2 separate regions of the Homo sapiens genome follow, and region 1 is linked to region 2. A link means that fine-mapping ties the variant in region 2 to the expression of a gene that starts in the linked region. Tissue or cell type: blood mononuclear cells. Region 2 holds a variant in brackets; the other region holds the start of a gene. All regions are shown on one strand. Distances are from middle to middle.

What was found. PIP is the estimated chance that this variant, and not a neighbour inherited with it, causes the effect.
Region 1: it holds the start of MYO1F, and the variant in region 2 is fine-mapped to the expression of MYO1F in blood mononuclear cells (TOPMed, PIP above 0.99).

The regions. Positions count from the first base shown.
Region 1 is chr19:8,573,687-8,579,257 of GRCh38, reverse strand. It overlaps MYO1F (myosin IF), which reads left to right and starts at 1,816. Exons shown (of 28, transcript NM_012335.4): 1 at 1,816-1,951. The coding sequence starts at 1,949. RefSeq lists silencers at 290-484, 1,705-1,854, 2,392-2,441 and enhancers at 2,562-2,741, 2,912-2,971, 3,312-3,371.
Region 2 is chr19:8,518,594-8,524,275 of GRCh38, reverse strand. It overlaps MYO1F (myosin IF), which reads left to right. Exons shown (of 28, transcript NM_012335.4): 26 at 1,447-1,642; 27 at 1,730-1,899; 28 at 2,672-3,498. The coding sequence ends at 2,748. Among named protein-coding and RNA genes, the nearest start is that of ZNF414, 7.3 kb to the right of the region's middle. RefSeq lists an enhancer at 1,100-1,599. The variant T/G (reference allele first, on the strand shown) is at 3,993.

The sequences.
Region 1 (5,571 bases), 55 kb before region 2:
CACCCTGGCCATCACACTCTCCGTCACTCCGCATGCTCCAGCCACACCAGCCTCCCCGAACTTCCTCAATTGCCCTATGGTTTTCCCATATCTGGGCCTTTGCTTGAGCGCTTAGCATGGCCAGGTGCACGCTCCTGCCCCTTTACCTTTTTTAACTCCAGCTTACTCGCCGGTGTCAGCACAAACGTTGCCTCTTCCTAGAAGCCTCCCCTGATGGCCCCCAACAAAGTGGGGTCCTCTTACCCATTCATATTCACTCTTGAGTGCCTGGAGACATTGCTGAGAATTGCATGCCCCAAGCCCGTCAATTCTGCAAACTCGCTCAGGAGATTCCAGCAGAGACGGGCTCCTTCCCAGCTGTGGCCACTAGGGGCGCTGCATATTAACATCTTCAAGGGGGATGCGGGTTTATCGCCCTGGACCAAAGATAGATCTGAACATGGGTCCCCCAGGGTCTCCCAGGGTCGGGTCCTGCCTCGGCCACCTCCTTGCTGGGTGGTGTGGGGAAGTAACAACCTATTAGAACTGCCATTTCCTCACATGTCAAGAGGAGCCTCAGGTGGTTGGCTGGTGTCCCAAAGACCAGCTCATAGGCTGACACGTACCTGGGCCAGGCTCTGCTGGGGGGACCCACGTTCCCATTTTACAATGAGAAAAGGGAGTAACTAAGTCATCCAGGAAGTAGCCAAACTGGAGGCTGTTAAATCTAGATGTGACATCCAAAGTCAGGGACCTTTCAGATGCACCTGCTTCCCAGTACCCTCCACTTCTGCACACAAACACGTGTGACTTCTGAGGGTCATCTAAAGAGGGAGGTTGGGCCAGGCGTGGTGGCTTATGCCTGTAATCCCAGCACTTTGGGAGGCCGAGTTGGGAGGATCACCTGAGGTCAGGAGTTCAAGGCCGGCCTGGCCAACATGGCGAAATTCCGTCTCTACTAAAAATACAAATATTAGCCAGGTGTGGCGGTGGGCACCTGTAATCCCAGCTACTCAGGAGGCTGAGGCAGGAGAATCGCTTGAACCCAGGAGGCGGAGATTAAAGTAAGCTGAGATTGCACCACTGCATTCTAGCCTGGGTGACAGAGCTAGACTCCGTCTCAAAATAATAACAATAATAATAATGAAGGAGGTTGCCCAGGGATGCCCAGAGCAGACACAGCTGAAGAAGGCACCCTTCCCTGTTGTTGTTGTTTTTTTGGTTTTTTTGTTTTTTCTGGTTTGTTTTTAGAGACAGGGTCTCACTCTTTCGCCCAGGCTGGAGTGCAGTGGCGCAATCAGGGCTCACTGAGGCCTCCACCTCCCAGGTTCAAGCAATCCTCCCACCTCAGCCCTCTGAGTAGCTGGGACTGCAGGCTCATGCCACCATGCCCAGCTAATTTTTTTTCTTTTCATTTTTTGTAGAGATGGGGTCATGCTATATAGCCCAGGCTGGTCTCAAACTCCTGGACTCAAGCGATCCTCCAACCTTGGCCCCCCAAAGTATTGGGATTACAGGCGTGAGCCACCTCCCCTGGGCCCCTTCCTTGGTTTTAAAAAGAGACCCGGGAAGCCCAAATGCTTCCTGAATCGCCCTGAAAAGAGGTGGTTCGTCCTGCAGCCAGCTGACCCAAATGTTCCTGCAGCAGCCCTGTCCCCAAGGAGTTGGGGAAGAGGCCTCTGAGGTCCAGTAGTGGCTGCCATCAAGTTCTGACCCCTCCCTTCAGGCTCAGAGCCCCAAACAGCCAGCTCCCCGCCCCCCTCCACACCCAGCTTCCCTCCCCCATGGCCTCGGCCCCTCCCGCCAAAGGAAGTGAGAAGGGGCTGTTGTAAGAGGAACTAAAGCCGGGAGTCCGGTGAACGGGCAGAAGCAGGGCCATGCCCAAGCCACCCCCAAGATCCCCCTGAACCTGCACCTCCATCACGACCCATTCAGGAGCCTCCAGGAGCCCAGACACCAGCCCCCCACCATGGTAAGTCCTTCAAGGGTGGGATCTGGAAGAAGAAAGAGGAGGGACACCAGCCAGGTGGAGGTGTCCTAAAAATGACCATCAGAAATTGGGGTGAGGGGAGGGGCATGGTGGACTTCTGTGGGGGTGGGGTGTCTCTCAGTGCAGCTCAGGTGCCTCCAGCATCCCTTACCAGGGAGCAAGCTCCCATCTGTAGGTGGTGGGGATGCCAGGGTGGTATCCCTGGATCCAAGGATAGGGCAGGACCTGGAAGACAGAAGGTGGCCCAGGGAGAATCACAGAGTCTGCAGGGACAAGGACATAGCCTCCTTTGCTTGCAAATTAAGGGAGCCCTTTCCCAGTCCAGCCCAGTCTCTCGTCTCCCTGTGTAGCCTTGGGCTAGTCACTTCCCCTCTCTTGGCCCCGGTTCCCACAGATGTCATATTTGGAAATCCGTCTAGATGCGGAAGTTGCTCTTCAGGGGTCTTTCAGTTGCAACATTCTCAAGGTCTGTGGGTTCTGCCACAGAGTCCTCGGCTGAGATGGGAAGCTATGTCTAACAAGCGATGGGGTGGATTGACGCCCTCCCTGTGCCGGTGACGGGCGGTATGGCTGCAGCAGAGGCAGGAGAGGCTGAATACGTCCATGCCACCCTTTGGTGGGCATCCCTTATCCCAAGAGGAGGATGGCAGCCAGAGGTGTTGCTGCCTGTCAAGTCTGAGGTCTGTCGATGATAGCAACGGGGAGACTGTCGTGATCATGGCGCTATTCCTAGCAGTATCGTACCACCATAAGACGCAAAGTAAGAGGTGGCCAGGGCTGACCCCACCCCACAGCTCTCTGCTGTGTAGACCACTTCAGCTTTCATTTCTCGTCATTCAGTCAGTGAGGATGAGAGCATGTGGCTGTGACAGCGGCCACTGCAGGATTCTTGGCAGGTACAGCTTACTAGGGTGGAGTCAGGGACATAGGGCAAGAGGCAGAGGTGGTGTTAGTCTGAGAGACAACACCTTCTTTCAGGAAGCCAGTGAGGGCCAGGGACAGTGGCTCATGCCTGTAATCCCAGCATTTTAGGAGGCTGAGACAGGTAGATCACTTGAGGTCAGGTGTTCGAGACCAGCCTGGCCAACGTGGTGAAACCTCGTCTCTACTAAAAAATACAAAAAATTAACTGGGCGTGGTGGCACACGCCTGTAATCCCAGCTACATATGAGGCTGAGGCAAGAGAATAACTTGAACCCAGGAGGCGGAGGGTGCAGTGAGCTGAGATCCTGCCGCTGCACTCCAGCCTGGGTGACAGAGCACACTCCGTCTCAAAAAAGGAAAGCTGATGAGAAATTGGGCATCCCGGAATTCACACCCAAACCATCAGCTGGAGCTCTGAGACTGTTGGGGTGGGAATTCTTCCAAGATGAGAAGCAAGCCAGGGAGGCTCAGGTCCTGGGATGGGCAGGGCTTTGATCAAAAGAACACAGGAAGTGATTTGCTACTTGAAAGAAAGGCAACCCCTCCCCAAGGAAGCCCTCTGAAAATGCTTAGTCAACAGTCGGCTTGGCAGACAAGGTCTGGGAGGGGCCACCCGTATCGCAGAGGATGATAGAAGAGAAAAAAATGACACCCACCTCTGTCTGGGGATGCTGAAATCTTCCTGGAGGAGTGGTGAATGCCAGGAAGATCGCTGAAGGATTCAATGAAACAGTATTTCTGAAGTCCTTTACAACAGGGTCCCCAACCCCCGGGGTCATGGACTGCTATCGGGCCATGGTCTGTCTGTTAGAAACCATGAGCCCTATCGGGTCACAGAGCAGGAGATGAGTGGCAGGCAAGCAAGCCCGAGCTCCACCTCCTCTCAGATTCTCGGGGGCGCCATTAGATTATCACAGGATCGCAAACCCTGTTGTGAACTGCACACACGAGGGATCCAGGTTGCATGCTGCTTATGACAATCTAATGCCCGGCCGGGTGCGGTGGCTCACACCTGTAATCCTAGCACTTTGGGAGGCCGAGGCGGGCAGATCACGAAGTCAAGAGATAGAAACGATCCTGGCCAACGTGGTGAGACCCCGTCTCTCCTAAAAATACAAAAATGAGCTGGGTGTGGTGGCACATGCCTGTCATCCTAGCTACTCGGGAGGCTGAGGCAGGAGAATCGCTTGAACCCGGGAGGCGGAGGTTGCAGTGAGCCAAGATCACACCATTGCACTACAGCCTCGGCGACAGAGCCAGACTCCGTCTCAAAAAAAAAAAAAAAAGAAAAAGAAAATCTAATGCCGTTGGCAGGGTGCAGTGGCTCATGCCTGTAATCTCAACACTTTTGGAGGCCGAGGTGGGCGGATCACCTGAGGTCAAGAGTTCAAGACCAGCCTGGCCAACATGGCAAAACCCTGTCTCTACTAAAAATACAAAAATTAGCCAGTCGTGGTGGTGCGCGCCTGTAACCCCAGCTACCCGGGAACCTGAGATAGGAGAATCACTTGAACCCAGGAGGCAGAGGTCGCAATGAGACGAGATCACGCCACTGCACTCCAGCCTGGGCCACAGAGAGAGGCTCCATCTCAAAAAAAAAAGAAAGAGAGAGAGAAAGAAAGAAAGAAAAAGAAAGAAAGAAAGAGAAAGAAAAAGAAAGAAAGAGAGAAAGAGAAAGGAAGAAAGAAAGAAAGAGAGAAAGAAGAAAGAGAAAGAAAGGAAAGAAAGAAAGAAAGAAAGAAAGAAAGAAAGAAAGAAAGAAAGAAAGAGAGAGAGAGAGAGAGAGAAAGAAAGAAAGAAAGAAAGAAAGAAAGAAAGAAAGAAAGAAAGAAAGGGAAAAAAGAAGAAATAAAGGAAAAGAAAGAAAAGAAAATCTAATGCCCCGCTCCATGGTCCATGGAAAAATTGTCTTCCATTAAACCGGTCTCTGGTGCCAAAAATGTTGGGGACCATTGCTTTACAGAGCACATAACATGCACTTGATCCATGGTAGCTGCCATTAGCTGGGATGTCCATTCATTTCTGGATTCAGCAATGAGGATGGACGGAGGTGACGATTGTGGTAATTGGGGAGGAGTTGCTGCGAGTGGTCATTGCTGGGTTGTTGGTGTCATTGGTTGTGGTGGTGGTTGTGGCTGTTTCTTGTTGCAGGTTCGTGGTGATAATGGCTCTTGCAGGTGGGCTGGTGGTGGTGGCGGTTGGTGTTTAATGTTGTTCGTTGGTGGTGGATTGTTTTCAGCTGGAAATTCTGGAGATGCTTGGTGACCAGTGGAATGATGACCATCGGTGGTTGCTGTTATTTGGAGAGGAAAGGTGTTGGTAGTAGCGTTCATTTGCTGCTGGTAGTTTATTGTTGGTTTCTGGTAAGATGATGATCAGCAATGGTGGTGCTGGTTCAATGTTGGGTTTTGAACAGGATAGGACTGGTGACTGCTGCTTTCTGTGGTTGCTAATGGTAGTTGGTTATGTGTGGTTGTTGATGGCTAGTATTGTTTTTTTGTTTTGTTTTGTTTCTGAGACAGAGTCTCGCTCTGTCACCCCGGCTGGAGTGCAGTGGTGCAATCTCGGCTCACTGCAACCTCCACCTCCTGGCTTCAAGCAATTCTCGTGCCTCAGCCTCCCAAGTAGCTGAGATTACAAGCACCTGCCACCACACCCAGCTAATTTTTGTGCTTTTA
Region 2 (5,682 bases):
CCCAGCTAATTTTATCTTTAGTAGAGACAAGGTTTCACCATGTTGGCCAGACTGGTCTGGAACTCCTGACCTCGTGATCCACCCGCCTCGGCCTCCCAAACTGCTGGGATTACAGGTGTGAGCCACCGCGCCCGGCCTTTTTTTTTTTTTTTTTTTTGAGACGGTGTCTTGCTCTGTTGCCCAGGCTGGAGTGCAGTGGCGTGATCTTGGCTCACTGTAACCTCCACCTCCCAGGTTGAAGCAATTCTCCTGCCTCAGCCTCCCGAGTAGCTGGGACTACAGGCACACGCCATCATGCCTGGCTAATTTTTGTATTTTTAGTAGAGGCAGAGTTTCACTATGTTGGCCAGGCTTGTCTCAAACTCCAGACCTCGTGATCAGCCCACCTTAGCCTCCCAAAGTGCTAGGATTACAGGCGTGAGCCACCGCGCCTAGCCTAAAAATTCTTTTTAAATTAGCTGGGCATGGTGGTGTGTGCCTATAGTCCCAGCTATTTAGGAGGCTGAGAGGGGAGAATATCATGAGCCTAAGAGTTGGAGTCTGCAGTGAGCTATGATCTCACTGCTGCACTCCATCCTGGGCCACAGAGCAAAACCCTGTCTCTAAACAAATAAAAAATAAATAAGGCCAAGTACAGTGGCTCATGCCTGTAAAACCAGCATGTTGGGAGGCCGAAGTGGGAGGATTGCTTGAGGCCAGGAGTTTGAGACCAGCCTGAGCAACATAGTGAGACCCCATCTCTACTTTAAAAATTATAAAAATCAACTGGGCATAGTGGAGCATACCTGTAGTCCCAGCTCCCCTTAAAAGGAGGCTAAGGAGGGAGGATTGCTTGAGCCCAGGAGGTCAGAGTTGCAGTGAGCTACGATTGTACCACTGCACTCCAACCTGGGCGAGAGTGAGACCATGTCTCAAAATAAACAAATAAAAGTAAAAAATAATTGGCCAGGCGCGGTGGCTCATGCCTGTAATCCCAGCACTTTGGGAGGCCAAGGCGGGCGGATCACAAGGTCAGGAGATCGAGACCATCCTGGCTAACATGATGAAACTCCGTCTCTACTAAAAATATTTAAAAAATTATCCAGGCGTGGTGGCAGGTGCCTGTAGTCCCAGCTACTCGGGAGGCTGAGGCAGGAGAATGGCGTGAACCCAGGAGGCGGAGCTTGCAGTGAGCCGAGATCGCGCCACTGCACTCCAGCCTGAGCGACTGAGCAAGACTCCATCTCAAAAAAAAAAAAAAGTAAAAAATAATTTTAAAATTATGCTTAAAAAAGCTTCTGTCTAGGCCCTCCTAGCGGCAGAGTCCCTCCGTCTGGCCCAATCCTTACCACACTGGGTTGAGAGTGTCGCAGTCTCCTCCCTCAGCCTGAGAACTTGAAGCCAAGTCCTCCTCAAATCCTCCTAGCATCACCCTAATACATGTCTTCATCCTTGCTCCTGCCACAGGCATGGATCGCAATGGGGTGCCCCCCTCTGCCAGAGGGGGCCCCCTGCCCCTGGAGATCATGTCTGGAGGGGGCACCCACAGGCCTCCCCGGGGCCCTCCGTCCACATCCCTGGGAGCCAGCAGACGACCCCGGGCACGTCCGCCCTCAGAGCACAACACAGAATTCCTCAACGTGCCTGACCAGGGCATGGCCGGGTAGGTGGGGTGGGAGGGCAGCTCCAGGAGGTGGGCAGGGGGTAGGGGAGTGTCTGGGGCTGTGACTCAAACCCCCTGTGCCCACAGCATGCAGAGGAAGCGCAGCGTGGGGCAACGGCCAGTGCCTGGTGTGGGCCGACCCAAGCCCCAGCCTCGGACACATGGTCCCAGGTGCCGGGCCCTATACCAGTACGTGGGCCAAGATGTGGACGAGCTGAGCTTCAACGTGAACGAGGTCATTGAGATCCTCATGGAAGGTGTGTGTACCAGGGCAGAAGCTGGGGTGAGGGGAGTGGTAAGAACCCTGACATCGGCCGGGCGCGGTGGCTCACGCCTGTAATCCCAGCATTTTGGGAGGCCAAGGCGGGCAGATCACGAGGTCAGGAGATCGAGACCATCCTGGCTAACACAGTGAAACCCCGTCTCTACTAAAAATACAAAAAATTAGCCGGGCGTGGTGGCGGGCGCCTGTAGTCCCAGCTACTCGGGAGGCTGAGGCAGGAGAATGGCATGAACCCGGGAGGCGGAGCTTGCAGTGAGCCGAGATTGCGCCAACACACTCCAGCCTGGGCGATAGAGCGAGACTCCGTCTCAAAAAAAAAAAAAAAAAGAACCCTGACTGACATTGCCAGGCAGACCCCACCACTGCACACCCTCCCCACGGGAGAACAGAGATAACAGATGGGCGAGGTGGCTCATACCTGTAATCCCAGCACTTTCAGTGGCTGAGGCAGGAGGATCACTTGAGGTCAGGAGTTTGAGACAAGCCTGGGCAACCTAGCAAGACCCCATCTCTACAAAAGATTTACAAAAAAAAAACTTTTAAAGAGTAGAAATGGCCGGATGCAGTGGCTCACACCTGTAATTCCAGCACTTTGGGAGGCTGAGGCAGGAGGATGGCTTAAGCCTAGGAGTTTAAGACCAGCCTGGACAACATAGGGAGTCCCCATGAACAAGATGGACAGACCAGGCATGAGAGCTTTCTCCAGGGCCAGCTAGGGGCACCTCAAGCTTTCCTCTCTCCCACAGATCCCTCGGGCTGGTGGAAGGGCCGGCTTCACGGCCAGGAGGGCCTTTTCCCAGGAAACTACGTGGAGAAGATCTGAGCTGGGCCCTGGGATACTGCCTTCTCTTTCGCCCGCCTATCTGCCTGCCGGCCTGGTGGGGAGCCAGGCCCTGCCAATGAGAGCCTCGTTTACCTGGGCTGCAATAGCCTAAAAGTCCAGTCCTTTGGCCTCCAGTCCTGCCCAGGCCCTGGGTCACCAGGTCACTGCTGCAGCCCCCGCCCCTGGGCCCTGGTCTTCCTCCAACATCACACCTGCTGCCCATTCTCCATTTCTGTGTGTGTCAAAGGGGACTAACAGCAGAATCTACCTCCCAACTGCCATGTGATTAAGAAATGGGTCTTGAGTCCTGTGCTGTTGGCAAAGTGCCAGGCACAGTTGGGGAGGGGGGGGTCCTTAACAAGCGTGACTTTGCTCATTCTGTCATCACTAAGGCAATAAACCTTTGCCAGGTGAAAGCACGAGTTAACTTACTAAGTGCCCAACAAGGACGATGTTTTCACAGCCCTGTGAGGTAGGAGCTGTGAAGGACCCCATCTTACAGGTGGAACAATGGAGGTTCAGAGAGGTTCACTGACCCAAGACTGCACAGAGCCATGCCTTGCATTCATATGTGACCATAAAGCTTGAATTTGTCCCAGTTTGGGCTGGGCGCAGTGGCTCACGCCTGTAATCCCAGCACTTTGGGAGGCTGAGGCGGGCAGATCACGTGAGACCAGGAGTTCAAGACCAGCCTGGATAACACAGCAAAACCCTGTTTCTACTAAAAATTTAAAAAAGAAAAAAAAAAAAGCCGGGTGTGGTGGTGCCTGCCTGTAATCCCAGCTACTGGGAAGGCTGAAGCAGGAGAATCACTTGAACCCGGGAGGCAGAGGCTGCCGTGAGCCGAGATCATGCCACTGCACTCCAGCCTGGGCAACAGAGCAAGACCCTGTCTCAGAAAAAAAGAAAGGAAGGAAGGGAGGGAGGGAGGGAGGAGGTGGGCGCGGTGCCTCACACCTGTAATCCTAGCACTTTGGGAGGCCGAGGCGGGCAGATCACAAGGTCAGGAGATCGAGACCATCCTGGCTAACATGGGGAAACCTTGTCTCTACTAAAAATACAAAAAAGTAGCCGGGCGTGGTGGCGGGCGCCTGTAGTCCCAGCTGCTCGGGAGGCTGAGGCAGGAAAATGGCATGAACCTGGGAGAAGGAGCTTGCAGTGAGCCGAGATTGCGCCACTGCCCTCCAGCCTGGGCAACAGAGCGAGACTCCATCTCAAAAAAAAAAAAAAGAAAGAAAAGAAAA[T/G]AAAGAATTTGTCTCAGTTTCCCTTCCAAAATCTGCATCCCAAATGGTCCAGCAGGTCCTGTTAGTCTTGAAGCTACAGCCGCCAAACCCATCTGGGACCTATGGAGAGAGGCAGGTCCCACATGCCACATGCTCCCACCCTCAATGCACTCTGGGTCACTCCTGCCCCCTGCACCCCAATCCCATTTCTGTGCCCTCTTAGTCTTCACCTAACTGGGACTAAGACTGGAGTCCTGCTATGGTCTGAGCCTAAAGATCCTGAATTTTGGGCTGGGCGCAGTGGCTCATGCCTGTAATCCCAGCACTTTGGGAGGCCAAGGCGGGCGGATCATCTGAGGTCAGGAGTTCCAGACCAGCCTCACCAACATGGTGAAACCCTGTCTCTACTAAAAATACAAAAATTAGCTGGGCATGGTGGCACGTGCCTGTAGTCCCTGATACTTGAGAGGCTGAGGCAGGAGGTGGAGGCTGCAGTGAGCCAAGACTGCACCATGGAATTCCAGTCTGAGCAATAGAGTGAGACTCTGTCTCAAAAAAAAAAAAAAATTCCTGAATTTTGGGAGTGGTGGTGCATGCCTGTAGTCCCAGCACTTTGTGAGGCCGAGGCTGGAGGATCACTTGATCCCGGGAGTTCAAGGCTGAAGTGAGCTATGATCGCGTCACTGCACTCCAGCCTGGGCAACTCAGCAAGACCCTGTCTCTAATACTAAAATAAACCAAATCCTGGCCAAGCATGGTGCCTCACAGCTGTAATCCCAGCACTTTGGGAGGCCAAGGCAGGAGGATCACTTAAGGTTTGACCACCCTAGGCAACCTACTAATACCCTGTCTCTACAAAAAAATTTTAAAATTGGCCGGGCACGGTGGGTCACACTTGTAATCCCAGCACTTTGGGAGGCCAAGGCGGGCAGATCATAAGGTCAGGAGATCGAGACCATCCTGGCTAACACAGTGAAACCCCATCTCTGCTAAAAATACAAAAAATTAGCCGGGCGTGATGGTGCGCGCCCGTGGTCCCAGCTACTCGGGAGGCTGAGGCAGCAGAATTGCTTGAACCTGGGAGGCGGAGGTTGCAGTGAGCCGAGATGGCGCCACTGCACCCCAGCCTGGGTGACAGAGTGAGACTCCATCTCAAAAAAAAAAAAAGCTAGTGTCATGCCTGTATTCCCAGATACTCAGGAGGCTGAGATGGGAGGATCACTTGAGCCCAGCAGGTCGAGGCTGCAGTGAGCTGATTACAACATTGTACTCCAGCCTGGGCAACAGAGCTAACCCTGTCTCTCTCTAAAAATAATAATAATAATAATAATAATAATAATTAATTGTAGCTTTCTAATATGGACACCCGCTCTGTGCTCAGCCCCTCAAAGAGAAGCCAGTCCAGTAGAGATGGGGCTGACTGGTGAGGTGAGGACTGGCCCACAGAAGCGAGGGGAATTCAGAGGTGGAATGGGCGTTGCAGCAGGAGCCAGGAAGGTGGGAGAGGGTCGGTCTCAGCAGATTTGGTTGACAAGCACTGCACAGAGTGATCTAAGCTGTGATGAGCGAACTGCGGGCACAGAATACCTACCCAACGGAAGAATGGGGCATCGGGAATCCCCAGTAGAGCCAGGAATCAAAGCAAGACTAGCAGCCGGGCACGGTGGCTCACGCCTGTAATCCCAGGGCTTTGGGAAGCTGAGGTGGGCAG